Linked DNA regions of Homo sapiens: region 1 is linked to region 2. Evidence: fine-mapped expression QTL. A gene starts in region 2. The other region holds a variant in brackets. All regions are shown on one strand. Distances are from middle to middle. Region 1 overlaps TMX1 (thioredoxin related transmembrane protein 1). Region 2 holds the start of TMX1 (thioredoxin related transmembrane protein 1).

What was found. PIP is the estimated chance that this variant, and not a neighbour inherited with it, causes the effect. A credible set is the group of variants that fine-mapping cannot tell apart.
Region 1: its variant is the best candidate, but not a certain one, in a credible set for the expression of TMX1 in lung (TOPMed, PIP 0.53).

Annotation. Positions count from the first base shown.
Region 1 is chr14:51,257,152-51,273,176 of GRCh38, forward strand. TMX1 (thioredoxin related transmembrane protein 1) reads left to right here. Exons shown (of 8, transcript NM_030755.5): 8 at 1-504. Among named protein-coding and RNA genes, the nearest start is that of TMX1, 25 kb to the left of the region's middle. The variant A/T (reference allele first, on the strand shown) is at 7,437.
Region 2 is chr14:51,231,732-51,247,756 of GRCh38, forward strand. TMX1 (thioredoxin related transmembrane protein 1) reads left to right here and starts at 8,516. Exons shown (of 8, transcript NM_030755.5): 1 at 8,516-8,713; 2 at 12,125-12,240; 3 at 13,582-13,627; 4 at 15,361-15,489. The coding sequence starts at 8,562. LOC124900346 (small nucleolar RNA SNORA70) reads left to right here and starts at 12,359; the gene lies at 12,359-12,493. RefSeq lists a silencer at 8,352-8,694 and an enhancer at 8,555-8,794.

The sequences.
Region 1 (16,025 bases), 25 kb after region 2:
AATGTAGGAGTGAATAAATGCTATTCATAAATAACCATAATTATTCAGTATTTGCAGTCTCGTGATGTTGGTTATTGCATAAAGTAAGTTATTGCAGTAAATGATGCTTTAGAAAGCAATTTTCTCTCATCAGTTTCGTCCTTATTCAGCCTTACACAAAAAAAGGCATAGTTCTGGGCTTAATTGTGATGTAATTAAAATTATTGAGTGAACATTTTGGCTCATATTTTATGACATTGTAGTTCATCCCCATGGTCAATTTAAGGTAGAGTTCTTACAATATATTACTTTCAATATAGGTATTTTATTAATAAGAATTTATTTCAGTTGGACTTATTAAATGAGTGGTTTTGCTGAGTGTATGAGTCTATAAATAAAATTTTAATTGAACATCATTGGAGATTTAGATATGTTGGTACTGCTTATCTAGCAACTTTTGTATTTGTGAAACCATTAAAACTAGAGTAACAATAAATTTAAGTTGGAATTTTGGTAATATGTAAATAGCAAAGTCAGATTATATATTTGAACAGGTGTAACATATCCCCTTTTTTCTTATTTATTTATTTATATTTTTGAGATGGAGTCTCACTCTGTTGCCCCGGCTGGAGTGCAGTGGCATGATCTCGGCTCACTGCAACCTCCGCCTCCAGGGTTCACGCCATTCTCCTGCCTCAGCCTCCCGAGTAGCTGGGACTACAGGCGCAGGTGCCCACCACCATGCTCGGCTAATTTTTTGTATTTTTACTGGAGTTGGGGTTTCACCATGTTAGCCAGGATGGTCTCGATCTCCTGACCTCATGATCCGCCCACCTCGGCCTCCCAAAGTGCTGGGATTACAGGCGTGAGGCACTGTGCCTGGCCTTTGTCATTTATTTTTAACTGACAGGAAATAATTGTGTATATTTATAGGATACAATGTGATGTTTTTATCTGTGTACATGTAGAAAGATTTGACCAAGCTAATATATCCATCACTTCACCAGTTTATCATTTTTTTTGTGGAGAAAATGTTAAAAATATAAGTTAGCTATTTTGAAATATGCATTAACTGTGGTCACCATGCCATGCAATAGATCACTAAAATGTATTCCTGTTGTCTAACTGGAACTCAGTACTGTTTGATCAACATCTTCTCTTTCTCCATTCCTCCCTTACTTCCCAGCCTCTTGTAACCACCTTTGTATTGTTTCTATGAGATTAACTTTTTTAGGTTCTACATATAAGTGAGATCATACAGTATTTCTTTCTCTTCCTGGCTTATTTCACTTAGCATAATGTCCTTCAATTCTGTCTATGTTACTGCAAGTGACAGAATTTCCTTCCTTTTTTAAGGCTGTATAGTATTCCAGCATGTATACTACATTTTCTTTACCCATTCATTCATTGACAGAAACTTAGGTTACTTCCCTATCTTGGCTACTGTGAATAATGCTGAAATGAACATGGGAGTGCAAATATCTCTTCAACATACTGATTTCAGTTCCTTGGATACATATCCAGAATTGGGATTGCCGGGATACAGGGTAATTCTGTTTTTTTTAGTTTTTTGAGGAAACTTCATACTATTTTCCAAAATGGCTGTACTAATTTACATTCCCACCAAGAGTGTACAAGGGTTCCCTTTTCTCAAAATTCTCACTAATACTTATTTGTCTTTTTGATCATAACCATTGTTAACAGGTGATCTCTGATTGGGTTTTAATATGTGTTTCCTTGATAATTAGAGATGTTGAGCATTTCTTATATCTGTTAGCTATTTGTGTGTTTTGAGAAATATCTGTTTATCTTTTGCCCATTTAAAAAAGTTATTTTTCTTAATAACTGGAATTGATTTATTAATAAATCATTAGAAATTATTAGACATTAATAAGAAATTATTTCTAAATAAATAGAATTTAGTTCCTTATATGTTTTAGATATTGGCTCTTTATCAGTTATATGGTTTGCAAATATTTTCTCCCAATATATGGATTATGCCTTTTCCTGTGCAGGAGCTTTTCAGTTTGATGCAACCCCATTTGTCTGGTTTTGCTTTTGTTGCCTGTGCTTCTGGAGTTCTGTTCAAAAAATCATTGCCCAGATGAATGTTGTAGAGCTTCCAGTAACTTTATAGTTACAGGTCTTAGGTTTAAGTCTTTCATCCATTTTGAGTTGATTATGGTGTGAGATAAGAATTCCATTTCATTCCTCTGCATGTTGGTAAAAGCACTTATTCCAAACACCATTTGTTGAAGAAACTCTTTTTCCCATTGTGTGTTCTTGGCATCCTCTTTGGAAATCAATTGACTATAAATACTTGGGTTTATTTCTGTGCTATCTATCCTATTCCGTTGGTTGATGTGACTGTTTTTATGCCATTACCATACTGTTTTGCCTTTTTGCTTTACATTTTCATGGAATATCTTTTTTCATACCTTCACTTTCAGTCTATATATGTCCTTAGAAGTGAAGTCAGTCTCTTTTAGGCAGTATGTAGTTGGGTCTTTTTTTCTTTTTTCTTTTTTTTTTAAAACCATTCATCTGCTCTGCTTTTTGATTGGAGTGTTTAATCCATTTATATTTAAAGTAACTATTGATAGGTAAGAACTTAATACTGTCATTTTGTTAATTGTTTTCTGGTCAATATTGTGGATCAGTTGTTCCTCTCTTCCTCTATTGCTGTCTTCCTTTGTGGTTCCTTGACTTTTTATAGTGGTATGCTTTAATATTTACTTTTTATTTTTTGTATATCTACTAAGGATCTTTGCTTTGTGGTTACCACAAGGCTTGCGTAAAACATACTAATAACGGGCTATTTTAAGCTGATAACACCTTAATTTTGATCACTTGCACAAATTACACTTTTACTCCCTACTAGTGTTTTTCTTGACATGTTTTATATATTTTATAGTTTGTGTTCCTTAAGAAATTATTCTAGCTATGGTTTTTTTAATAGTTTTGTCTTTTAGCCTTTGTACTAGATATATAATTGTTTTTTATACCACCATCAGAGTATGAGTGTTCTGAATTTGACTGTATACTTTTACCAGTGAGTTTTCTATCTTGATATATTTTCATGTTGCTACTTAGCGGTATTTTTTGAAGAGTCCTTTTGGGATTTCTTGTAAGGCAGGTCTAGCGGTGATAAATCATTAGCTTTTGTTTTTCAGGTAAAGTTTTTGGAAGACAGGATTGCTGGGTATAGATAGTATCTTGGTTGGTAAGGTTTTTTCCTTTCAGCTTTTTGAATATATCATCCTATTTCCTTCTGGTTGGCAGGGTTTCTTTTGAAAAACCCAGTGATAGTCTTATGGGGCAGCCCCTTTGAATGTAGCGAGTCACTTTTTCCTTGCAGCTTTCAATATCTTCTCTTTGTCTTTAACTTCTGAACAGTTTGATTATAATATGTTTTGGTGTTGGTCTCTGGATTCATCCTTTTACATCATTGAACTTCCTGGACCTGGCTTTCTATTTCCTTCTTCAGACTTCGGAAATTTTTTACCATTATTTGTTTGAATGTTTTGTCCCTTTCTCTCTTTTCCTGGCACAATGATAATGCATAAATTCTGCTTGATGATGTCCTGTATGTCCCTTAGGCTGTCTTCACTCCTTCTTATCCTTTTTTTTTCCTCTCTTCAGGCTGAATGATTTCCAATGACCTGTCTTCAAATTTGCTAATCCTGCTGCTTGATCTAATCTGTTGTTGAACCATTCTGAGTTTTTTAGTTTAGTTATTGTATTTTTCAGCTTGATGATTTCTGTTTGGTACTTGTTAATATTTTCTATCTTTTTATTGAATTTCTCTCTTTAAGAATGGCTCTCCTTACCTTGGTGAGCATCTTTATGACTGTCCTTTTGAATTTTTGTCAGGCAAATGACATATCTCCATTTCCTTAGGGTTGGCTTCTGGAGATTTATCTTTTTTTTTTTTTTACTTGGAATACATTTCCCTTTTTCTTCATTGTCCGTAATTTTTGTGTTAGTTTTTGCTCATTAGATAAAAGAATCCCCCTCCAAGTCTTGGTAGACTGGCCTCATGTAGATGTTCTCCCTCAGTCAGCCCCACCAGAGATTCTAAGTGCCTCTAAACTCTTTGTGCTTGTCCAAAGAATCTTTGTTCTTAGTGGACCCCAAGAAATTAGAGAGCATCAAGTCATACTATTGCCTTGTAAGAGGCAGGATAGAAGGCAGTCCTTTGGAATGCAACTGCAGAGGTTGGAGTGTGAGATATGATTCAGTTCTTCCCTTGCAGAGAAGCTGAGAGCCAGAGTTTATCTCTGACTCTTTCTATCTTACATCAAGGACGGGTCAGAAGCAGATCCTTAAAGTCTTGTTCAGGTTGTGCACTTTGAACCTGGGGAGATAGCTGCTGAACGTACAAGTTTAAAAGTCATCTGTTTGTTCTCTATGGTCCAGAAGACTCAGGAATACAGAGCTCTGTCAGTTTCCAGAACTAGGTGATGTAGGTGCCAGTAAAGGCTTAGTGAAGGCTTTACAAGTTGGGGTGCTAGATGCATGTGGAAACTTTCCACAGAGTTTGCAGGTTGGATCTGTTGTTGGAACAAGCCAGAGAAGATGATGTTGGGAGTGCTCACTCTCCTGTTAGAGCAAACAGAAGTTTCACAACCTCCTAGCAGGGGGAGACTTTCCTGGAGTTGTCACTGAAGTAAGCCAGGGAGGAAGGCAGGGAGTGTCTGCTTTCCCTTTTATACATAGAGAGGTACCCCTTGCTGGTCAAGAAGGTGCAGGGGATGCTATCGCTCCCATTCTTGCTGGCAGAAGTCTCCAACCTCTTTCCCTGGAGAGCTATAGCAAGTTAAGGAAGGTGACATAGGGAGTGCCATGCTTCCCGTTTAGACTTGAAGAGATTTATTTATTTATTTATATATTTTTTGAGACAGGGCCTCACTGTTGCCCAGGCTGGAGTGTAGTGGCATGATCATGGTTCACTTCAGCTTCAACGTCCTTGGGCTCAGGTGATCCTCCACCTCAGCCTCCCGAGTAGCTGGGGCTACAGGTGCATGCCACCATGCCCAGCTAAATTTTGGGGGTTTTTTTTTAGAGATGAGGTCTGAACTATGTTGCCTAGGCTGGTCTTGAACTCCTGGGCTCAAGCAGTCATCCTGCCTTGGCCTCCCAAAGTGCTGAGATTATAAGTGTGAGCCACCACACCTAGCCTTATATATATATATATGTTTTGGAGACAGGGTCCTGCTCTGTCACCCAGGCTTTAATGCAGTCGCAGCTTCATAACTTACTGCAGCCTCAAACTCCTGGGCTCAAGTGATCCTTCTGCCTCAGCCTTCCAAGTAGCTAGGATTACAGGCACACACCACCACACCCAGCTAATTTTAAAATTTTAAGTAGAAACAGCATCTTGCTATGTTGCCCAGGCTGGTCTTGAACTCCTGGTTTCATCCTCCTGCCTCAGCCTCCCAAAGTGAGGTTTATTCTTTATTTTGCTATGTAGGTTACCAGGTACAGGTTTGTTAGAAGCCAGAATCTCAGGGAGCTGCTGGAAAAGTGTGTGTTCAAACCCTTTCAGGAACAAGTTGGGAGCTGAGCTGATCCTGGGGACTGCAGCAACTGGGAGTGTTTGTTTGGTTCAAAAGCCCCCTTTGTTGTTTGTGCTTGAAGGAAATCTGATGCCATGCCCTCCTGTTTCCCAAGCAAAGTAATTTTAAGTGTCAGACTTTAAGGCAGGGACTGTAAATGTTGAGCACATGTGGTATAAGTCCCTCACCCATCAGGAAGAAGCTAGGATTTGGAGTTTCCTTTCTGTTTTTAAGGTGCCATGCTCACGGTAGGGTTAGTGTGCTGGTGTATCTCCACTTTTCCTACCTGTTTTGATGTGGATATTTTCTCAGTCATATGGTGTGTAGGTGTCTTTCAGCTGGATTCTGGCTTTCTCTTGAGAGCTGATCCATGTGTAGGTGTTTACCCAGTGTGTCTGTGGGATGAAGGACAGTCAGGAGCCTTCTATTCTGCCCTGTTGCTGACATCATTCCCCTCTCTCTCTTTTAAAGTAATTGTTTATTTTGATTCATTAATTACAAATGGTGATAATATCAGTATTTTGCCTGGTAATGAAATCCGCTTGTATCTTCTACCCACTTGGGTGTGACATTACTTTTAAGCTTGTTTTCCTAGTGGTGTTATAACTCAGACTGGTTGTGTCCAAAACATGAGAAATGAAAACACCAGAAGTAAATTGACCAAATAGAGGTTTGACTTATCTGAAACTTCTTTTAAATGTAAATATAATTAAGAGTCATCGTTTTAAGTTCAGTGGAAACATACTTAATTTTTAAGAGTAACTTAAGCAATGTATTTTTTTCAAGCCTTCCTATTTTCAGTGTTTTTAATAAAGCAGGTCAGAAATAAGGTTACCTAGTGGATTTGAGTATATCAGTTCAAGTCCTTAGGATGATTGGCATATTGCTACCTGGGCTTTTATTTATTTATTTATTTTTTTGAGACAGTCTTACTCTGTAGTCCAGGCTGGAGTGCAGTGACGCAATCTCACCTCACTGCAACCTCTGCCTCTTGGGTTCAAGCGATTCTCCTGCCTCAGCCTCCTGTGTAGCTGGGACCACAGGCGTGGACCACCACACCTGGCTAATTTTTTTTTTTTTTTTTTTTTGAGGTAGCAGGGCATTCTTAAGAAATGTTCTCTAAACTTTAGATATCTCCCATGTTCCACAGAATCAAATATATATTTCTTGGTTGGAAATTTTAAATGTTCTTAACTATCTGCCTACCATCCACCTCAATTAATATTCTTGAGACCACTTTAACAAATCAGCTCTTCAGTGAATGTTCCTCACATTGTCTGTTGGTTCATAAGTCAGCTGAAATCCGTTTAAAGTCCTTTCCGGCCCACAAGTGTAGGTTTTATCATCCTCTGGCAGTTAAGTCACATTTGTCTTGTAATGTTTCTTCTCTTGCATTTATTATACCAATTAGCTAAGTGACATTGAGCAAAGACCATACATCTCTTGTCCTCAATTTATGTGTAAAATGATTACTGAAGTTTCTTCTCTACCTTTAAGAAGACAATTATTAGATTCATACTTGTCTCCAAAACCTGACTGTCAGCTCCTTGAGGCCTGAAACTTGTTAGTTTGAAACAAACTGTAGTGATGTAGTGGGAGACTTCCGAGCATTAATGTTCACATTTGTAAAACGAAACAGGTCACTAGGAAATAATCACACCCTGAGTCTGCTGAGAATGGGGAGCCAGAAATGAAAAAGGCTGCCCTGCCCTTTACTCTCATAGACAATACTGTTGTGTTGTGTCACTGTACTAGCATCATCCCATCCTTCACTGCAAAAGCCAGATTTTAAGTCCTCCATCTGTGTCTCCCCTGCGTTCATATGCTTCAGGGGCAGTTGACTCCATCTTTGCCTGCTAGATTGAGTTTAGATTATGAACACACATGCTAATCCAATCC[A/T]GCAATTGACATGGTCAATGGATGTGTGCTCCAAATAGAGCCATTGAGATATTGCGGTATTCTGGCAAGGCCTCTTAAAAATGAGACTCAGCAAAGAGATAGTTCTCTCTCTTCTGGAGTTTGGCATTATCTGAATGTGATGCACAGAATTTTGAGGTCATCTCACAGCCTGAGGATGAAGCCAATAAACAGGATGGCAGAGCCAAGAGGATCTCAGAAAAGCAAAGGGAAAGTCCTGGTGTAATACCCCTTACCTCTGGACATCTTACTTGAGATAATTTTTCTTACTACCTAACCATTTTGAGTAAGACTTTTCAGTTGAAATTATGAGCATGGCTGTTACCTCTCGACTTTGTGAACAATGGTGTCTTGATTTAACTTAACCCAGTTCATTCCATATGTATTTCATTATCTGAGAATGCTCATTTCAAGCCTATGGTTTACTTCTCTCACTGTGACATTCCAAGGTTAGGGGGAACAAAGAGTACATGTATGTGGTAAAAAGTAATTCTTGGGCCAAATCAGACACAACAAACACTGGGTAATGAAAGGTGAAATGAGTATAGTTTTCCTTTCAGGGATCTATTTTTTATTATAGCTCATAATTCATTACACTAATGTTATGCTCTGTAAGCATTAGAGATGAAATCCTGGAAGCTAAAAATAGTATATATTGGGTTCAAATATAGCTGTTTAGTGTGAAAGCAGGCTTTGAACCTAAAAGAGCCTTGCTTGACTTGTTTAATAGAACTTTTATATTTGGATTTTATGTTTAGTGAGCAAATTCTTACAAATCGTTTTGGACAGTTACTTTAGTTGTCTTCTGAGAATGGGAACAATATAAGTTTGAAGGTGGTAGGAATTATTTTGCTATTTTGTTTCCTTTGAGGAGGAGGAAGGAAAGGATGAGAAATGTTTATGTTATCACGAATGTTTCTTAGTCTAATGTTTATAAAGGTGGATTGCAGTTGAATAAGACTACTGCTTAATAGTCTGTAACTTGCACTGTAACTGGAACCATTTTTTAAACTATTATTTTGTAAACCTGTCAAGAATGTGATTCCTTTTTTTTTTTTTATGTATTTGCAAGCTCCTTGTCAGTGCATGCTTTGACACCTTACTGCTGGAGAAGCCAAACTGCTTGATAACTTTTAGTAATATATTGCATATAAACATTTTTAGTTACATTCAATGTTAACACATAAATTCAGATTCTTAAATGGTCCCAGTTTTCAGGCTGATTTTTAGCTGAGTACGTGCAAACTGCATAAAATGATCTGTTACTTATTCTCATCTTGGATATGAGCTTCCAAAGAAATCATAGTCCACAAAAATAGGGCATTGTGGTATATTTTTATTAATCCTTCGGGCAGTCCTTTATTCTAAGATGATATCTTTCTACTTCTTAGTGTTTCTAAAATGAAAAATGATGGTAATTTTTAAAAATGACCTTAGTAAAGTTAGAAGTTGACAGTTTCTTGTGTCTAACATTTGGAGGAGAATGTTACTGGTTTATAACATTTTGAAGTCTGGGAACAATACGTCTAGGGGGAGATGAATAAACTGAAGTTTCCTCATTAGCTCATTTAAAGGCAGATAGATAGAAAGCAAGTATTAGAATCTCCTCCCAATCAGTAGATTTCTTCATCCTTCACAAAGTTTTGTTTGAGTGGAGTTACTGGAAGCCATGCTATGTGATACAACTGTAAAGTTAAATGCTCTAGTCACATTGTTAAATAGAACTCATTTTTGATCAAAAAGGGCTATTGACTTAAGAGATCTATCAGGTGACAGTTTGTATTATTGTGACACCCATGCCTGTAGTAATTTCATTACTCTTTGTGTCTGTGTTAAGAAAAGATAGACTCACAAGGTGAATGATTATCTTGGCATTTTAGTTACATCAGTGACACTTCCTCCTGTACATATGGGGAGATCAGATTTAATCTGATGCTTGGCACTCACTAAGGAAGAAAAAGGTCAGTTGGGTTACTGAGGGTTTTTGTTTTGTTTTGTTTTAGAAGCATCATTATAAAATTTATCATAGCAAGGAGAAGTATCCAAATTCAAATGGAATCATATTAGTGTCTTGGCACTGTCATCTTAATAAGTTCTTGCTGAATATATTTTTTCATTCGGCTGTTTACCACTGATCTTGAGTTAAGCCACCAAAGAAGGCCCCAATTGTGCTAGTTATCCAACTTTGCAAAAAAAAACAGCTTTTTTTTGAGACGGAGTCTCACTCTGTCACTCAGGCTGGAGTGCAGTGGTGCAATCTTGGCTCACTGCAAGCTCCGCCTCCCGGGTTCACGCCATTCTCCTGCCTTAGGCTCCCGAGTAGCTGGGACTACAGGCGCCGGCCACGACGCCCAGCTAATTTTTAGTATTTTTAGTAGAGACGGGGTTTCACCGTGTTAGCCAGGATGGTCTCGATCTCCTGACCTCGTGATCCACCCGCCTCGGCCTCCTAAAGCGCTGGGATTACAGGTATGAGCCACTGCGCCCGGCCACAAAAAACAACTTTTAATAAAATATTTTCCATTTTATTTCACCAATAATACTGTCTCATGATCCCCATGGATTTCCCTTATCTCTAATGTGAGATATTGTAAAAACCTTTTGTTCACCACACACACCTGTAATCCCAGCACTTTGGGAGGGTGAGGCAGGCGGATCGCTTGAGGTCAGGAGTTTGAGACTAGCGTGGCCCACGTGGTGAAACCTCTTCTGTACCAAAAATACAAAAATGAGCCGGGCATGGTGGTGTGCACCTGTGGTCCCAGCTACTCAGGAGGTTGAGGCAGGAGAATCGCTTGAAGCCAGGAGGTGGAGGTTACAGTGAGCCAAGACCAGACAACTGTACTCTGGCCTGGGCAGCAGAGTGAGACTCCGTCTCTAAAACAAAACAAAAAAAAACATTTTATTCATGTGTACGTTGCTTTAGAGTTTACAAAGGGCTTTCATGTTCTTTATCTCATGTGACTCTAACAACAACCTTTATTAGTAGACAGAGCGCATATTTTTTATTATTATGAATATTATTATTATTTTACAGATAAGGAAACTGAGAGGCTAAAAGACTTGGGTGAGGTTACACCATAAGTAAGTGTTGGAATGAAGACTTGAACCTAGGATCATTGACTTTAGTAGAGTTCAATGTTTCTCAAAATATTTTCTGTAGAAAACTAATCCCACAAGATATTTATGAGGACAATGCTCGTGGTCAAATGAGTTTGATATGTATGTCAATACAGTATGTTCCAGCTGGATGTTTACAGTACCTATTACCAATAAGACCAGTTTACCTTTGTTCAACCTGGTATTAATCAAGTTTGTTTGAATATAGAATCCCTTTTGAAAGCAACAACTTTAAATATCCTAAGAGATCAGTATTTCTTAAAGTACACTTTGGGAGAATGTTAGTGTAGTAACTTCTCCTATGCTATGCTACCCTAATCTTGCATGGGACTTTTCTGTATGGCACCTTGTACTTTAAACTTCCTACTCTATTGTAAAATCCTGTCTTCCTGAAGTACACCAAAATAATCCTATTGATCACTACATTGACAGCATATTGGTAATGTCTTAGAGGGAGAGCAAAGGCAGGATATTTTGGGTTCCTTGGGGCTCTGGCTTATGGTGGGTCTTTTCATTTGGGGGCTTATGCTTAGACAAATTTGTGGATAGGATCTGAAAGTGAATCTTGGCCAGGCACGGTAGCTCACGCCTGTAATCCCAGTGCTTTGGAAGGCCAAGTAATCCCGGCGCTTTTCGAGACCAGCCTGGCCAACATGGTGAAATCCGTCTCTACTAAAATTACAAAAATTAGCTAGATGTGGTGGCACATGCCTGTAGTCCTAACTACTTGGGAGGCTAAGGCTGGAGAATCGCTTGAACCCAAGAGGCAGAAGTTGGAGTGAGCCGAGATTGCACCACTGCACTCCAGCCTGGGCAACAAGAGTGAAACTCCATCTGAAAGGTAAAATAAAATAAAAATAAAGTGAATCTTGAGAAGTAGACATTCATTGCTGTATTCTGAGAAAGGAGTATATACTTTGATGAGGGTAAGTTCAGTAGTTTAGTGTTCAGATAAATGATTATGATATGTTCAGTAGTTGAGTGTTCAGATAAATGATTATGACTATGTCTTGAAATGAACAAATAAAATTATTTGCAGATTTACCTTCCTGGGTAAATTTCCTAGAATATTAATGCTATGTGAATGAAGACAGTTGTTGATATTGACGGTAAACTGTGTGGGTGCAGATGGTTTCAGCTTTTAGTGTATCCCCTTGTAACATAATATGAAATATATATTTGGTCTTTGCCCCCCAGTTCCTGACACAGAGTTCCTAAAACTCTTGCAATTTCCTTAGTGGTGGGGTGATAGGAGTATCTTTTTAAATCTTATTCCTTGTTCTTGACACAAGAGCTTCTCAGAAACTTGCGATCTCCGGAGTGAATGGTGAGTGTCTTTTAATATTTTCATGAAAAGAGTGGTGCTAAAAGCCCCTAAATATTATAGCTTCAGAATAGGGACTGGTTACCAGGGGAATCAACCTTGTGATTAGAAGACTGAAACTTCGAAGCTTTCTCCCGACCAGTGATTGAATTAATCATACCTATGTAATGGAACCTCCTTAAAAACCCTTAATAAAGGGGCTCGAGGAGTTTCTGGGTTGGTGAACACATGAAGGTGCAGGGAGGGTGGTATGCTTAGAGAGCACATGGAAACTTATATCCCTTCCCACATACCTTGCTGCCCAATACCTCTCTTCTCTGGCCATTCCTGAGTTGTATCCTTTATAATAAGCCAGAAATAATAAGCATTTCCTGAGTTCAGTGAACCATTCTAGTAAGTTATTGAACCTTAGGAGGGGTTCTTAGGAACTGCTGATTTATAGATGTCAGAAATATGGGAGGCTTGGATTTTTGATTGGCATTTGAAGTGGGGAAAGGGAGGCAGTCTTGTGGGAATGAGCCCTTAACCTGTGGGGTCTGCACTGTCTCTGTACAGTCAGTGTCAGAATTAAATTGTAGGACACCCTGTTGGTATCCACAGAGAACTGGAGAATTGCTTGGTGTGGAAAGCTTCTATACATTTGATGTCAGAAGTGTGAATATAGAGGAAACAGTTTTTCCTTTTCACCCCCTTATTGCCATTCTTTGGCCTGAGCTGATGGATTCACTACTGGGGATGTGATCAGTCTAGATCTTCTCTGCTATATATAGTCTCTTAGTCATGTATCATTTCCCAGATGGTTGTTTCAACATTCAAGTGTTAGGTTTTTCTGTTCTTTTTGTTGGATGATCATTTGTTTAATCATGTGGTAAGACAACAGTTGGACAGCAGCATTTAAAACTTGAGGACACACCATCTGAGCCCCTGTAAATAAAATATACCAAGAGAAGGATTATGATCAGTTTGTTGTCTTCCTCTAAGCCGTGACTCAAGAGTGTCCAAATTAAGCTAGAAGAACAGATTTTATCTCCTATATAATGAGGAGATGCAGTACCAGGTATGGGATTATTAGTCAAATCATAAAGTTAATTAATTTTATGATTTTTTGGTTAGCTTACCAGATCTTTTTAGTATTGTTAAAGATGCCAGAGACATCTGCAGGGCTATAAGCATACCATTTCCCCCTAAAACAGCACGTTTTCTCTCAAGACACCAATATTATAATTAATGGGCTCTTTTTGAGTTCCATTTTCTGAACCTCTTGGGCAAAGAGTTCTGTAGTTGTGGTAGCATTGTTTATTATAGCTTTCCTGCTTTTCTCTGAACCATAGCATGCCGGAGACTCTCTACCTCTAGGCCTCTTATAAAGTGAAGAGGATTGAAGACAGCAGAAAGCAATCCAGAATTTGAGTGATTAGGGTTTCGATTCTCAAACCAAGACCCACTTTTTCTCCTTTCATGAAGCTATCTCTTTTTCTAAGAGGGTAAATTGATGAATCAAAACAGATCTTGGATGATAACAGGGACTATCCTGAGGTTAGTTAGGAGTTTACCAAAGTAACAAGCCTCTGTCCGATTTGCAGGTAGTAGCCAGTAGGTTTTTGTGTTACAAATCCACTCACTGGTGGCCACTCAGTCGTCTGTTTTTGGTCAAAATACTCCTGTGGTTATTGTCAAATCCTTTTGCTATGCTCTAGGGCCACTTATGAAGAGTGGTCTGGCTCCAGGCAGTGAAATTTATGGTGTCAAGACTATTAATTTGGTTGTTCTAAAGTGAAAGAGAAGTAGTGTGTTTTACTTGTCAGATCGGGTAAAGTGAGATAGTCTCCAAATATGCATAATCTGTTCCCTAGTTCTCTTTCAAGCTTTCTATCTGTGAAAGTTTGTGTACAAAAGCTAGCTCCCACAAAAGGTCCCAAAGGTCTCAAGCATAGTTTTGGTGGAGACAGGAACATTTTGTTGTTTTGTTTTGGTTTTTGATAGGCTATTTATCCTTGTATTTTACCCAGAAAATCATTTGATCTCATTACAAGGAAATGGAACCAACGGAAGCTGGGTGGCTCCTCCAAAAGGAAAATGTATATAATCCCAACTCTCAGTTTGAGTGTATGCTTTATTTAGCTAATTCATGAGTAAATTGTTTCTTTCAGAAGACCAAGTCTTTGGGTTTCAGGTTGTATGAAGTTTGTTTGGGAGGATTTGGGGGAAAGGCTGCTCATACCTATTGATAAGACTGGATGTTTAGCATGAGTTCCTTGTAATACTTGGTCCTGTCTGCTTGCCAGTTGTGTCTGGAGTCTAGAATCAGATGTAATATTCCTAGATGCCTGGGCAGGCCTGTATTTACTCATAAAGCAAGAGTTGATAGACTCCAGTGGACTCATTAAAGCTTATGGGAATATCTTAGACCGTAGAACTTTGAGAGTCTCTGGGAACTTTGCAAAATTGAGATTCAGAGTTATATTTATTCTTTACCTTTCTTGGATATTGGGGCAATATAGATAGGGAACTTTCTGATTAAGTGGAGGGGCCTTGCAAAGCTCTTTAATAACAATCCTAGAAAAATTGGGACCCCTGCCACTAGAGAGATGTTTGAATTCCACAGGTTGGCAATATGACATCAGATAATATTTTTTCTACCATAGAGCCATAGCTCCCTAGCAAGGAAAGGCTTAGTCTATCCTGAGAATAAGCAAACAGTGGACAGGACATATTAAAAACTCACTGCAGGATGTACTTGTATGAATCCATTTGGAGGTGCACAAAGAGGACCTTTGTGGTTTTGGGGTTTCATGGGTGCTAGGAGCTTAGCAAAAGATGCCTGTCTTCCATAGTGACCAGCCAGAACACCTTGTTTAGCATTTGTGTTATCCCTTTTTGGGATGAATTTCAACCTTGATAATAACTACCACCTTAGGAAGTATTAGAGCACTTAAAAGTTGTTTTAATCTGCCAATCTTAATTGGATTTCCTGCTGATGTCAAAATCCTGTATTGTAGCCAAAGCATTCTAAAATCATGGACTACCTGCAAAAGCATATCCGCTATAAGTGTATATATTAAGCTCCTTTATTGCTAAATAACCAACAAGCTAAGCAATAGGATTTCATAGGAGGTAAGCCCACTTGCGAGAAATGTGTGTTTCCAGAAAGCAACAAAGGTTGTATAACATGGGACACCTTCAAGACTACCATCAGAACTGTAGACTTGGTTTTAGGGACACCGTTAAACTTGATGATGCCTCATACTATACAACTTGCAGGCTTTATAAGGGCAGAAGGTTTTACCAGTAGTAAAGAGAAAGATTGTAGTAAGCCATTGGCATCTAGAAATTCATATGGGCTTGAGTCAGAACATTAAAAGCTTGTTCAGATCTTTCTTGTACAAATAGGCACAATGAATAGGCACAATGATTTATGATGAGAAAACCCAGAATATGATGTTGGTGAAGAGCACAACTTGGCTGTTTTATCACAGAAATAGCCATGACAGTATGTAAATGAATGAGTGTTGCTATATTACAGTAATACTTTATTTACAAAACAGGTGGCTAGACATGGGCCTTACAATGAAATGTATTTTCTCTTTCTGAAGAATTTACTCCTTTAACATTTATTGTGGTTACTGATACATTTGCAGTCATTTCTACCGTCTTACGTTGTGCTTTGTAATTGTCCTATTGTTTATATACATACTTTTTCTCTTGAATTGTTGGAGAATTTTTTTTCCAATTTTTTAATTAAAACTTTTTTTAGAATTCCATTTTCCCCCTTATTGAAAATGATGCCATTTTAATTTTTTCGTGGATCTCTTAAAGTTCTAACAAGCATATTAATCACTATTTTTGCCTACCTCCTAATTTACATGCTATTGTTTTAATTCTCTCTATATATAAAATATATATTTGTTTAAAATATATATTTTAAATTATATATTATAATTTATATATATATTTATATATATTTTAAATTATATATTATAATTTATATATATATTTAAATATATATATATATTTGTTTTGGTTTTGTTTTGAGATGGAGTCTTGCTCTGTCACCCAGGCTGGGGTGCAGTGGCGTGATCTCAGCTCACTGCAACCTCCGCCTCCTGGGTTCAAGTGATCTTCCTGCC
Region 2 (16,025 bases):
AAACAACCATCTAAAGTCTGTGGAAATTGTCCTAAGGGCATACAGCAAATGAAGAAGCATTCTTTTTTTTCAAGAAAATCCACTAAAACTGAGTAAGAACAGTAACAGTCTATGGCGTCTGAGCCATACACTCGATTCCTACCCATCTTCCTCACCCCCTGAGCTCATCTTGGTCAAAACTCTACTCTGGGTGAGTGTGACCAAGAACATAGGGCTCCCTGTCTCCTCAACTCTCAATCAAGAGAGGCAATATCTCACCAGGAGGAAAAGGCCACCAGCATTTTTCATCCATTCCAACTCTGAGTTGCAAAGGCTAAATTCCTGGTAAGTGTGGCCCCATACAGGGGACAAAAGTTCTATGCCAGGTGCAGCAGAGTGAGAACACTGGGAACTCCAATCACCCTTAACCCAGCTTGCTCATATGGCAGAGGTTCCACTTCAGAAGCAAGTCAAGAAGATCAGAGCCTCCTGTTCTACCCAGTGCCCAGAATAATAACTAAGCAATTTTGCCCATGAGTAGACGCAGCCCATAAAAACAGAGAGCCCTGAAGCTCTCCCCAGAGGACTTACCTTTATTTGAAACAGAGTGTGGGTGATGGTCAAGCCTCGGGTTGCTCTAAAAAAAACAATAGTTTCCTGTAATAAAAAGCAACAAGCTAAACCATAAGCTAGCTAGTTTACCAGAGAGAACCAGGGAAGGAGACAACTAAGAAGAGCCCTCTTGAGGTTAGAGGAAACCTCCAAGACTGGCCTCAAAAACTACCAATGCCTGAATTTTATTGGATTAGACTGTGGAGCAATTTATGCCCCAGGGGGTATCTTCTTAAACAGAGAAATCATCCTACACTTAGTGTAGCACAACAGCTAGAGGTAACACCAAACGAGACAGAAAGTTTAACAGAGAGATCAAGGAAAGAGACAGTCAAAGAGAGCCTTGCTAGAACCACTGATATCCCCTGGTGACGGTGCACATGTCCAAGGCTGCACTCTCTGAGAAATGGGAGCAGAGGCCTTCCGCTACTGGAGAAATAGACTTCACCAAAATAGCCTAGCCAAGTCACTAAACAAACCACAATCAAATAAAAACAAAAGACAAGTCCAAACCATATAGAGGGAATCAGTACTCAGAATTGCTATAATGTATTACCTAAAATGTCCAGTTTTCAATGAAAAAATTGTCATGCAGCGAAATAGCAAAGTATGACCCATAGATCAGAGAAAAAAGTAGGCAACAGAAACTACCTGTGACAGAGCCAAAATGTCAGATTTAACAAAGATATCAAAGCATTCATTATAAACATATTCAACAAACTTAAATAAATCGTGCTTAAAGAACTTAAAGGAAGGTATGATGACAATGTTGCATCGAAAAGAGAATATCAATAAATAGAAATTATTTTTAAGAAGCACCAAATGGAATGTCTAGAGTTAAAAAGTACAATAACTGTAATAAAAAAAATCACTACAGGCGCTCACCAGTAATTTGGAGGCAGAAGAAAGAATCTGTAAACTTGAGATAGATTCACAGAGATTATGCAATCAGAAGAACGGAAGAAAAAAGAATAAAGAAAAATGAGCAATAAATGTGGGACACCATTTAGTTTACCAACATATGCTTAACGAGATTACCAGAAGGAAAGGAGGGAGAAAGGAGCAAAAAATACATGGATTTGAAGAAATAATGACTGAAACCTTCATATTTTCCAGAAAACATTAATCTAAATGTACAAGAAGTTCAACAAATGCCAATAGGACAAATGCAAAGAGCTCCACACCCAGATACATCATAGTAAAAATGCTAACAAAGACAAAAAAAAAACTTGAATGCAGCCACAGAAAAACAACTTGTCACGTACAAGTGAACCTTGATAAGATTATTAGATACCTCTCATCAGAAATAATGGAGATCAGAAGACAGTGGATGACATATTCAAAGCACTGGAAGAAAAAACTATACACCAAATATCTTATATAGAACAAAACCATCTTTCAAAAATGAAGGTTAAATGAAGACATTCCCAGATAAACATAAACTGAGAAAAGTGGTTGCAAACAGATCTTCCTTATAAGAAATACTAAAGGAAGCTTCTCAAGTTAAAAGCAAGTGTGCCTAGATGGTAATTTAAAGCCACAAGAAAAACAAAGAGAATGGGCAAAGGTGATTATGTAATTATAAAAGGCAGTATAAATGTATATTTATTTTCCTTTTGTCTCTTAGCTGATTTAAAAAACAATTGTATAAAACAATTTTTTACAATTGCATTGTTAGGCCTATAACATACAGAAATGTAATATAATTAACAACAACAGCATAAAGATGGTGGGTGGGAGCAAAGTTGTATTGGAGGAAGGAAATTATACCAGATGATAATTTAAATCCACAGGAACAAATGAAGATAACCAAAAATGATAATATGAATATTAATATAATAAACACTAAATATATACTTGTTCTTGTTTCTTTCCTCAGCTTCTTTATTAAACATAAAAGTACATAAATTAATAATTATAACAATATATTACTGAATTTATAACATAGATACAATATATAACAATAACACAAAAAGTAGAAAGAGTAAACAGTTACATAGGAGTAATGTTTCTGTATCCCACTAGAATTAAGTTAGTATAAATCTGAAGTAGATTCTGATAAATTAATATATATAGTAAACTTTAAAGAAAATGCTAAAAAAAACTTTCAAAATATACACTATAAGAAATTCTTATAGGATTATATGTTATACTAGAAAGTGTTTATTGTAAAAGACGTAGTAAAGGAGGAATAGAGGAATGAAGTAGTCATAAAACATATAGAAAACATAAAGTAAAATGACAGAAATCCAACCATATTAACAATAACATGCCAGTTGTGGTAGCTAATGCCTGTAATCCCAGCACTTTAGGAGGCTGAGGCAGGCAGATCACTTGAGGTCAGGAGTTCAAGACCAGCCTGGCCAACATGGTGAAACCCCATCTCTCTAAAAATACAAAAATTAGCTCTGCATAGTGGCGCATGCCTGTAGTCCCTGCTACTTGGGAGGCTGAGACAGGAGAATTGCTTGAACCCGTGAGGCAGAGGTTGCAGTGAGCTGAGATTGCACCACTGCACTCTAGCCTGGGTGACAGAGCAAGACTCTTTCTCAAAAAAGCCAAACAAACAAACAAACAAACAAAACAATAACATTACCAGTAAGTGGAGTGTCCAGGCACTCCATCCCGGACAACAGAATGAGACCCTGTCCCCCACCAAAAAAGAAAAAAAAAAAAGCAAATGGATTAAATATGTAATCAATCAAAGGGCAATCATTGTTAGACTAGGTAGAAAGAAATAAAAACAAAAACAAAAACCCTCAAGGTCTAGTTATATGCTGTCTACAGGAGACACACTTTTCAGATTAAAAAATACAAATGGTTGAAAGTAAAAGGATGGAAAAGATATATCATACAAATAGCAGCAATAAGAAAGCTGAAGTGGTTATGCTAATATCAGGCAAAATGAATATAAAACCAATAAAAAATTCTAGGTGTAAAGAAGGAAATTTTATGATGAGAAGGGTCAATCCTCAGGAATATATAACAATTATAAAGATATATGTCAGAGCCCCAAAATACATGAAACACAAACTTTCAGAACGAAGAGCAAAATAGACAATTCAACAATATTTGGAGAACTTCAATACTCCACTTTCAACAATGGACAGAACAAGTAGGCAGAATATCAACAAGAAACTAGAAGACTTGAACAACACTATACACCAATCAGACCTAACAGACATCTAACTATAGAACACCCAGTGATGGAAGAATGCAAATTCTTCTCAAGTGATGGAATATTCTCTGGGATAGGCCATATACCAGGCCATAAAACAAATCTCAATAAATTTTAAAAAGATTGAAATCATACAAGGTATGTTCTCTGACCACAATAGAATGAAATTAGAAATTAATAACAAAAATAAATTTGGGAATTCACAAACGTGAAAATGAAAAACACACTCCTAAATAGCCAATTGACAAAAAAGGGTATCAAAAGAGAAAATTAGTATATGCTTTGAGATGAATGAAATGATGACACAACAAAACAAAAGTTATGGGATACAGCTAAAGCAGGGTTGGGAAATTTAGAGCTTAAACACATACGTTAAAAAAATAAAGATCTCAAATCAATAATCATAACTTTCATCTTAAAACAATCAGGGTAAAAGGGGGCATAAACCCAAAGCATAAAGAAGAAGGAAATAATCAAGAAGAGAATAGAAAAATGGTAGAGAAAACCAACAAAACTAAAAGTTGGTGCTTTGGAAAGGTCAACAAAATTGAGAAACCTTTAGCTATACTGACTTTGTTTTGTGTTGCTATAACAGAAGGCTGGGTAATTTATAAACAAAATAGGTCATGATTATTAGCTCGTGGTGCAAATGGCTGGGAAGCTCAAGGGCATGGCCCTGGCTTCTGGTGAGGTCTTCTGTGCTGGGTCATAACATGGCACAGAAGGTCAAAAGGGAAGCGGACAAGTGCAAAGAGAGAAAACCTAAGGGGTATCCTGGCTTTATAACAACCCATTCTCAAGGGAACTAATTCATTCCCAAGAGAACTAATCCAGTCTCATCAGAGTGAGAACTCACTCACTATGAGAACAACACCAGGGCCAGCATTGAGGCTATCACCTTTACTTGGGAGGCTGAACTGGAGGAGCACTTGAGACCAGGAGTTTGAGGTTGTAGTGAGTCATGATTGCACCATCTCTCCCCAGCCTGAGTGACAGAGAGATACCCTATATATTTTTTTTAAAAAAGAACAGCACCAAGCCATTCACAAGATCCACCCCCTTTATTCAAATCCCTCCCAATAGGCCCCACCTCCCAATACCATCACATGGGGAATCAAATTTCAACATGAGTTTTGATGGAGACAAACTCAAACCATATCCAAACCATAACACTGACCAATAAATAAAAGAAAGAAGACTCAAATTACTAAAACCAGCAATAAAGAGAGGACATTAATATCAATGTTACAGATATAAAAAGGATTATAATACTATGAACAACGTTAGGCCAACAAATTAGACAACTTACATGAAATGGACGTATTCCTAGAAAGATGCAAACTACCACAACCAACTCAAGAAGAAATAGAAAATCATAGTAGACTTATAACAAGAGATTGAATTAGTAATTTAAAAGCTACCTACAAAGGAAAGCCCAGGCCTAGGTGACTTCACTGCTAGACTCTATCAGACAGTTAAAGAAGAGTTAATACAAATTCTTCACAAACACTTCCAAAAAATAGAAAAGGAGGGAACACTTCCCAGCTTATTTTACGAGGCCAGTTATATCCTGATAGCAAAACCAAAGACATTACAAGAAAACTACAGACCAATATCTCTAAGGAATATAGACATAAAAATATGCAACAAAATACTAGCAAACTGAATGTGGCAATATATAAAAAGAATTATACACCATGGCTAAGTGGGATTTATACCAAGAATGCAAGGTTGATTTCATGTCCCAAAATCAATCAATGTAATACACTGTATCTTTGGGAGGCTGAGGCAGGCAGATCATGAGGTCAAGAGAAAGAGACCATCCTGGCCAACATGGTGAAACCCCGTCTCTACTAAAAATATAAAAATTACCTGGGCGTGGTGGCACGTGCCTGTAATCCCAGCTACTCGGGAGTTGAGGCAAGAGAATTGCTTGAATCCAGGAGGCGGAGGTTGCAGTGCGCTGAGATCACACCACTGCACTCTAGCCTAATGACAGAGCAAGACTCCGTCTCAAAAAAAAAAAAAAAAAAAAAACAAAAAAAACACCATATCAATAGAGTAAAGGACAAAAACCACATGGTCATTTCAATAAATGCAGAAAAAGGATTTGTCAAAATTCAACACTTCTTCAAGATAAAAACAGACGACCTTCTAGGAATAGAAGGAAACTTCCTCACCTGTATAAAAGGCAACTATTTAGAATTCACATTAACATCATACTTAGTGGTAAAAGACAACGCTTTTCTCCTAAGAACAGGAACAAGATAAGTATGTTTGGCCACTCTTGCCATTTCTATTCAACATTGTAATGGAGGTCTAGTGTCTTAGCTTGGGCTGCCATAATAAAATATCATAGACTGGGTGGCTTAAACAATAGAAATTTATTTTCTCACAAATTTAGGAAGTTCTCATTGTACTCAAGGCAAGAAAACTCTGGACTAGGGTGTTGGCTGTTGAGATGGAAATTGGTGGTCAGATTCAGGATACGTTTTGAAGGTAACGTTTACAAGATTTGCTCATAGGTTACAAGAGGAGAAGGTGAAGAGAGAGAACAATAAAGAATTAACATGTACATGTTTGGCTAGAGAAACCTGGTGAACCTCGGGGCTCTTTAGTGGATGGAAGACCAGGAGAGGAAGAATCAAGAATTATCTTTTTTGGCCGTTTGATGTTTGAGCTTCTGAACCCCCAAAATCTGAGACAGGTCTCAGTCAATTTAGGAAGTTTATTTTGCCAAAATTAAGAATGCGCGCCCATGACATAGCCTGAGGAGGTGCTGAGGACATGTGCCTAAGGTGGGTGGAGCACAGCTTGATTTTATATTATATATTTTAGGGAGACATGAGACATCAATCAACATATGTAAGATGAACATTGTATTGGCCTGGAAAGGTGGGACAACTCAAAGCAAAGGCGGGACAAACTCGAAGCCAGGAAGGGGCTTCCAGGTCATAGGTGGGTAAGAGACAAATGGTGGCATTCTTCTAAGTTTCTGATTAGCCTTCCAAAGGAGGCAATCAGATATGCATTTATCTCAGTGAGAAGAAGGATGAGAGGCAGGTTTGCCCTAAGCAGTTCCCAGCTTGACTTTTCCCTTTAGCTTAATGATTTTGGGGCCCCAAGATTTCTTTTCCTTTCACCAGCTATTACATACCCAAGAGATGTTTAGCAAGGAGTTGAATACATATGCCTGTAGTTCCCAGAAGGATCAGAGTCTGAATGATATACAGTTGAATACATATGCCTGTAGTTCCCAGAAAGATCAGAGTCTGAATGATATACAGTTGAATACATATGCCTGTAGTTCCCAGAAAGATGAGAGCCTGATGATATGAAGAGAAAGGTGGCGGGAGATGGGGGGCGGGGGGCAGTAAAGCATCCTGGAGATGCCGATGTCCGGAAGTAAAGGAGGACCAGCCAAGAAGTTTGAGAAGAATCAGCTACTGTAGGACAGAAAAAAAAGCGAGCTGCCCAGACAGCAAGATAGTAAAGTGTTTCAAGGGTGTGGTAGAATGGGGCTAGGAGTCATGCTAGATGCATTGAGAAGAAACAATTGGGATTTATCTTGCTGGTCGCTGGTGTCCTTGAGAGGGCTATTCAGTGGAGGGGTGGGGAAGGGGACTAATTGGGGTTAATTAAGTTGAAAAGGTGAGGTAAGATAGTGGCAACTATTTCCTTGAGACTTAGTCTCTCTCTATAGCCCAGATTGGAGTGCAGTGGAATGATCTCGGTTCACTGCAACCTCCGCCTCCCGGGTTCAAGCGATTCTCCTGCCTCAGCCTCCTGAGTAGCTGGGACTACAGGCGCCTGCCACCACGCCTGGCTAATTTTTGTATTTTTAGTAGAGACGGGGTTTCACTATGTTGGTCAGGCTGGTCACAAACTCCTGACCTCAAGTGATCCGCCTGCCTTGGCCTCCCTGTTTTGCTAGGATTACAGGCGTGAGCCACCGCACCTGCAACTATTTTCATTTGACTGATGGGGCAGTGCACATTTTGGTTTGCATTTGTATTTACGAATGTTTGAGAGAAAAAACTCAAATATCTTACAAGCCTATGTGTCTGGTTCCATTTTGAAGTACTGACCTAGGATCTCTGTACCTACTGAATTTTTTTTGAGAGATAACATACACCTGAAAGTGCATAAAGTGCACTGTCTTAAAATGTACAGCTTGATCCTTCTTTAAAAAAAATCATATACGTACGCCCATGTAACTACTGTTCATATCTAGATGTTGAACACCTCCAACACATCCAACATAACCATAATGTTCCTCTGCACCTTCCCTGTCTATAATCTCTCAGAAGTAAACCAATATTCCGACTCCTATAAAATCCATTAGCTTTACTACATGTTTCAAAGAAAACAAATGAGAACTCTGAAGGACATTTAATTGGAAAACTGCTTTAGCACATTATAAACTTACCAATTTGCTTGTAAACGCTAACCATTTGGCGCCAAAATCCTGGGAGGGTCTTTTAAACCGTTCTTCCTCAAAGCACCGCCCCACTTTTTACACCACGCCTCCTTTTGCTCTGTTCCTTCCCCCACAATATTGGGACACCCTAGGCGGTAGAAGCAGCCGCTTTTCTGTCATGCGCATTGCGGAGAGTCGTTCTTCCCTCTTTCCCGACTTCACCACTCACTGGGATCAGACCCCTGTCATGCGCATTGAGAGTCCTCTAGACAGGCGCTCCTCGCAGCACCGTAGTGCGCTTGCGCTGAGCAGCCCGCGAGGGCGGAAGTGGGAGCTGCGACCGCGCTCCCTGTGAGGTGGGCAAGCGGCGAAATGGCGCCCTCCGGGAGTCTTGCAGTTCCCCTGGCAGTCCTGGTGCTGTTGCTTTGGGGTGCTCCCTGGACGCACGGGCGGCGGAGCAACGTTCGCGTCATCACGGACGAGAACTGGAGAGAACTGCTGGAAGGAGACTGGATGATAGAATTGTGAGTGCGGGGCGGCCAGGGTCCTACGTCCGTGCCTGGACACACGACTTCACCCCGCACGTTCCTCGTGCGGGTCGCAGGCTCCCCAGGACTGCGCCTCCGAGTTGCGGAGCGAGCGTCCCCGACTTCTGCAGCTCCCCAAACTCTTGGGATCTGCCGCCAGCTTGGTCCCACCCCCTCGTCTCTTACCCGTGAATGTTAAGTTTCTTCTGGGGTGCACCCTCGTTTCGTTTCTTGGGTTGTGGTGCGCCCAAAGGGTTAGTGCCAATGCGAATTCTGACATTTTTCATGACTTTGAGGATGCGACTGGGGCGCGGGGAGGGAGGTGTCCGACTCGTGTCTAAGTAGTTAAAGTGATTCTTCACAGACTTCTACACTTATTTTCACCACATTTTACATAAGAGAATATTGAGCAAAATTTCTCCTCTCGTTTTGTCTGTCCTTAAAAGATAGTCTCTTTATGGTGTTGGAATTTGGCGCTTTTAAGCTTTTTTTAATGGATTGGGTACGTTTCTTTTTTATTGTAAATACTGAGTCAATTCAAGTTGGGTTATTTTTAAGTTTTCGTTTTCTCTTTTTGCCTCCTCTTTTGCTTTCTCTTTTTTTCACTCCTCATCTCATTTTTCCTTTGGGTGTCTTTGTAGTGTAGAGAATACCTTGGGTTGTGACTCCTAGGTCTTTGTAAATGGTATTACATTAAAAGATAATGTATTAATGTATACACTCTCAAGAGCGCCAGGTCATCATTTATTGCTCGAACGAAATCATGTATTTTGTGTGGTGATTTCAATTTAATAATATCTGTTCTGCCGCGGTGGGAAATAAAGTATCTGTCTTTGCTTTAGATGCTAAGTCGTTGTTGATGGTGGTATTATACATATTAGCAGTATTTACTGATAATAGTAAAAGCATAATTATTAACAGTGTACTGGACACCACTAAGCACCTTTACACGAATACCATATTTAATTCCCTACAAATTCTCTATGACAGGTGTTTTTCACGTTTTACAAATGAGTAACAAGATACCTAAATACTTTAGTTAACCTATGCAGATATTGCTGTGCTGGCTTTCTTTGGGTCTTCAGAGTAGGCATACAATAATTGTTGTTAGAACACCTTCTTCTTTAAAAAGGTTCAGCTGGAAGTGGCGTACGCTACCCAGGAGATTGAGGTATGAGGATGACTTGAGCCCAGGGGTTCAAGAGATCCTGGGCAACTAGCAAAATAAATAAGTAAATAAATAAAAATGAAAAGACAACAGGGTTCAGGTGAGTGTTTTCTTGTGTCACGAATACAGCAAGGGTTGTCAAGTTAAGGAGGCCAGTGAAAGTGACATCCCCAAGGGAGAACCCAGAAGGCTAAATCAGTAAGTCCTGTGTTATTTTTTAAAAAAACAAAACTGGCCGGCGCGGTGGCTCACGCCTGTAATCCCAGCACTTTGGGAGGCCGAGGCCGGTGGATCACGAGGTGAGGAGATCGAGACCATCCTGGCTAACACGGTGAAACGCCGTTTGTACTAAAAATACAAAAAATTACCTGGGCGTGGTGGCACGCGCCTGTAGTCCCAGCTACTCGGGAGGCTGAGGCAGAAGAATCGCTTGAATCTGGGAGTCAGAGGTTGCAGTGAGCCGAGGTCGCACCACTGCACTCCAGCCTGGGCGACAGAGTGAGACTCAATCTCAAAAAAAAAGTAGAACATTTATATGGAGGGTAAGATAAAGGGAAATTTTCATAGTATGCATGTAGTCTGCAATTCTGAAATGAATTTTCATTCAGGCACCATTGAAAGCTTCAGGGGAGAGGAACTGTGACACTTTTTCAGTCATCATCATGAGTAACTTGTTTTAGATCGTGCCTGTAAAATAGTGTTATAAGCAATATATTAAGCAATAGTGATCGTGTGTGTATATGCAAAATACAGTCAAGTATTACTCAAGGATATTTTTTAACTCATTATGGTCCAACTATATAAATACAGCAATCAGAAGTAGTATTAAGGAGAACAAGACTAACAAAACATTGAGTATGAGGTAAATCCACATTGGAGCATCTATCTGAAATTATGCTATAGAGTAGTAGTTTTTCTTTTTCCTTAAGTAGAGATTCTAAAGTAAGTTTTTAGAAAGCAACTGACAGCCTGGGCAACATGGCAAAAACCAGTCTCTACAAAAAAATACGAAAAATTAGCTGGGCGTGTGGGCAGGCATCTGTAGTCCCAGCTACTTGGGCTGAGGTGGGAGGATGTCTTGAGCCCGGGAGGTTGAGGTTGCAGTGAGCCCAGATGGCGCCACTGCCCTCCAGCCTGGGTAACAAAGCGAGACCCTGTTTCAAAAAATAAAAAAGCAACTGAGCAACAAAACGAACCTGAAAAAGAAGGACTCTAGTAGTTTTAGTAATAGTCTGCTCCTAATTACAAGTGAATTATCTACAGTAAATCCATTTCTGCTCAGAAGTTTTGTCATGGAGATATTTTCATTGTAATACGATTTATTGTTAGGAGCTTGGCTTTTATACTACCAGTTTGTCTTGTTCTACAATGTCTATTTTAGGAGTTTGGTTTTCATAAAACAAGTGAAGAAAATGTGAAGTACAGAAAGTATAGTTTTGTGTTTAACTGCTTTAGGCTTTATTCTTCCTGGTTCTGTTAAAAAAAAAAAAAAAAAAAGAACAACCCTGTGGTGTATTATAAGATAAAATACAATAAAGTGGAAAAATAAGATCCTCAGGAGATAATACCAGAGGAGTAATTTAAATGCTAATATGCTTGCATTTGTAAATCCAAGGTCTTGGAAACAGGATGACCTAACTGGCCAAGAGTTTTGTTTGGCCTGCTTAGTATTTGTGTGTGGGTTATTTTTTGAGGTAACATTCTCATATAAAAATGCAGCTCTCCATCTTCTTTTAAATATGAATAGCCAGCCTTAGTGTGCCAGCATCCTTAGTGGCAATCCTACTTAATAATGGTTGCCACTTTAAGATGGAATATGTGCTTTCTTATTCACCACAGCCCAGGACACTTCTGTTTTTCCAACACCTTGCATTTGTGACTCTGCATTATAAATTATTAAAATTGGTAAGCTCTAACTTTGGTCTTGAGCTTTCTGGTGGCCACACCGTTAATAGAGAAATGCAAAAGTTTTCTAAAGAGCTGTTTTGCATGTGAAAAAATCCTGTGTCTTATTCTCAGAATTTTATTTGATTAGCATCATCAGTTCATCATTCTTGATTTCCGGATTGTTAGATCTACCCTTAAAAGTTTTTCATCTGCATAAAATTAACCACCTTATCATCTTCAGTGTTTTCATATGAAATATTCTTCATAAATTATACATTTAAATTTTTTATCCCAAGATAAATGGTCATACTAAAGTGCTTAACTTTTTTTAAAAAAAAATCTGTATTTCTTAGTTATGCCCCGTGGTGCCCTGCTTGTCAAAATCTTCAACCGGAATGGGAAAGTTTTGCTGAATGGGGAGAAGATCTTGAGGTTAATATTGCGAAAGTAGATGTCACAGAGCAGCCAGGTACTGTAAGTCTTTGGTTAGTTTTGTTTCTTTGCTGTTTGGGTTGATATATTTATCCTTTTTTCTACATTGCATAGTCTTAATTCTACCTTTCTTTAGGTTTTGAAAACCTAACAGTCTGCAGCTAGTTAACCTGACTTGTCCACCTCCCTGCTGGGGGCTCAGTGTGCAATGGTTGCAAAATGGAGATTCCCTGGTTGTGTATACACCTCATTTCTTGAATGTGTTGCTTTAAGGGTTCTTGAAGACATTACCCTCTTTTTATTCTTGCCCACATAACTGCCTCTGATTTGTTGTTCTTTGCATCCCAGGCCCCAGACTAGTATGTAAGATGCCTTTGAGAAGTCCTAGGACACTGTGGTTCAGGTGAACATTGGCCAAGCCACATTTGCATCCATACCAGGCTTCAGAATAAGGAGCATGTGGTTGAGTGTTTTTCTGGAGTCAAGGTCACGTTCCCTGACAAAAGAAGACCTGAATCTCTGAAATTGAGTTTTAAATTTAGTACCTATGATTTGAGGATGTGGGCTTCTAAATATAAAGCCCTCGTGGTTGTGAGGTCAAGTGCACTCCTGACTTGGTCCCTGGACAAGTGGCAGGTCCTGCCCTTAAGGAGGTTCCTTCCACAGACCAATCTCATCTTACCGTTCTCGGTAGTCACACTACCCTTGGATTCTTGGCTGTCCCATCCCAAATGGTAATAATAGGTAATATTTATCGAGCGCTTGCCTATTATAGCACTCTTCCAAATATCTTGTGTTTATTATTTAATCCTTATACAACCCCGTGAAATATGTAATGTCCCCATTTCACAGATAAGAAAACTGAGGCACAGGTCAATTCTCTGTAATATCAGTGCTTGACACATGGCTAACAATAAATGTTAGCTGCTATTATTTTTGCCTGTCTCATGAAAGATTCATAGTATTTTCCATTTTTAGCAGCACCATAAACTGCCTTTGTTTGTTGAATGTCAAGTACAATTCCATTGGATTTTAGATCTAAGACCCTATTACCTTGTGCTCTCCCATGAGCACAAGGTGCTCTTATTACTAGTAGTCTTAATTTTGACAGTGATATAAATGTTGAAGTGTTTTTATTTAAAAATGTATTCAGTACTCTAGTTCTACATACTTTTTAACTGAGATAATGTGCAGTATTGTGTTTTTTAAAGTTGCTTTAAGTACATAATTCATTTTTAAATTATGTATTACGAAGCTCAACTATTAGGTATAATTTCATATTCTTTCCTATTAGTATGTATTTAAATAATTCAAAGTCACGTTTTAAGTAGTCAGTGATTGGCCTATGTAAAACCTGCTGTGTGTTCTTTATTTGTAGGACTGAGTGGACGGTTTATCATAACTGCTCTTCCTACTATTTATCAGTAAGTATTTGAAGATTCTAAATTATGGAGAAGGATGCATTATAGTGTAATCAGAAGTAGTAGGCCTCTGGCTTGGATCATGCTGGAAGAGCTGAGGTAATCTCATTATATTCAGCAGGTATTTTAGAGGGCTTGTTTTGCTTAGTGTTATCCTAGGTGCCTTTAGGTAGTTGAGTGATGTGTGAAACAGTCTCTGTTCTCAAAGATTTACAGTTGTTTTGGAAAGTGATGTTCTTGTGAAATGGTGTGATCCTGTTCAGCGTGTTAAGTCATTATGCATCCAAAGTAGTGGTGAGTCCTGTAGGTAATTGGATAAAGGAGAAATCACAGTTACCTGGATTGGTTCCCAGAGAATATGGGGTTTAAATGAAACCTTGGAAGTAGAATTTTAAGAGTGGAGCGTAAGCATTTTATTGTGAGGACAATCTCATAAACAGTCATTAACAGGAACATGTTATGTCCAAAAAGTAGCTAAGAAAGTGCTGTTGTACAGCCTTGGGTAGAGTAATAGGTGACAGTTGGGTAATAAAACAGAATGAGCAAGATTATGTAGTCTTCAGTGTCAGGTCTATTAGTTTGACTTTATCTTCTAAATTGAGGGTATGAAATCTCAAGTCTGTGTACCCCAACATCATGTAGCTGGTAGGTTAAATACCAGGAGGTACTGAAAATAAGTTGACAATTCTTTGTATTTATAGCTTGCTTTTCTTTGCCCTTTTTTCTTTTTTTTATGGTTTTAAAATTCACCCCTACTCCCTTTACATCTATATAAATTTCTGTTCGCTGTCTCCATAAGTGCTTCTGTCCTGCCCTTCTCATTCAGTCCTTTTCCCCACGTGCCCCTTCAGTCTCTCCCTTTGCTTTTCACTTCTTAGTGCCCTGTGACCTTATTTGGAATTTCCTGCCCTTTTTCTTTTAGTCAAAATTGTTTACCATATCCTTTCTCCTGTTTCCTGCCTGTCGAAATCTTACCTATGCTTCAAATAATAGCTCAAATGACACTTCACAAAAACTTTGTGTTTTGGGGTGGGGGGCTTCCTCGTGGTTTTTACCTCTGAGTGGATAAAGGGTCCCTTAACCCTACTTAACAGGTCCCTAGTAGGGAGCTGATGAGTTTTTGCACTTAAAGATGTTGGAGCCAAGAGAACATTTGTGACTCTGACAGAACTTTCTACATTGGGAATGGGAAGGAGGAGGTGGATCTAAGGAAGGCTGCAAAGCTCACTAAATAGTCACTGAAATGAGAGGAAGGGAAGCACCATACCAGATGCCTCCAGTGATTTAAAGCAGGGTGTCTGAGGTGATGCTATTATAGCCAAAAGTACTAGAAAAATGCCTTAAAATTTTAAGTTATAGCTTAACAGCTAATAATTACTATGTGCCAAGCACTATTCTAATAATTTTTATATAATTCTTTTAATATGTGTATTACACATAAGGCTTAAAAGTACTTTCCTGAGATTTATCTACTTACTGTATTTCATAGTTTCATTACTTGGAAGAATAACAGTAATTACATTTTAAGGCTTATGATTTAAAAAAATGTAACCTCATTGTTAAATTGGGGGCTAAAATGTCATGAGTAGGTAAATAGTATAATTTGCTATTAATACTTGTACATTGCTAATGCTTTTGAATGTTAGAATTGACTGTAAAGTGAAGTGAAAAAATAGCAAAATAAATATTAAATTATTTCTCAGTGCTGGATAATATTTAATTCTGATTCTCTTTAGTTGTAAAGATGGTGAATTTAGGCGCTATCAGGGTCCAAGGACTAAGAAGGACTTCATAAACTTTATAAGTGATAAAGAGTGGAAGAGTATTGAGCCCGTTTCATCATGGTTTGGTCCAGGTTCTGTTCTGTAAGTATGAGGGCTTTTTCTCTTACCCATTTCATAATTAATTGGAACAGATAATTATATTTTATGTAAAGCATTCATACTCAGTTTGTTTCTTGAGCTGTTAAGGTATATCCACATTTATTACATGTTTGATTTTTTTTTTTTTTTTTTTTTTGAGATGGAGTCTTGCTCTGTCGCCCAGGCTGGAGTGCAGTGGCGCAATCTCGGCTCACTGCAAGCTCTGCCTCCTGGGTTCACGCCATTCTCCTGCCTCAGCCTCCCGAGTAGCTGGGACTACAGGTGCCCACCGCCACACGTGGCTAATTTTTTTGTATTTTTAGTAGAGACGGGGTTTCACTGTGTTAGCCAGGATGGTCTTGATCTCCTGACCTCGTGATTTGCCCACCTCGGCCTCCCAGAGTGCTGGGATTACAGGTGTGAGCCACTATGCACGGCCTACATGTTTGATCTTTTTAGTTTGACCTTCTAAGTCAAACATATTTTCATGCTTCTTGAGTTAGAGAAGGCATTTTATAGAAGTAAGTTGTACACCTTTT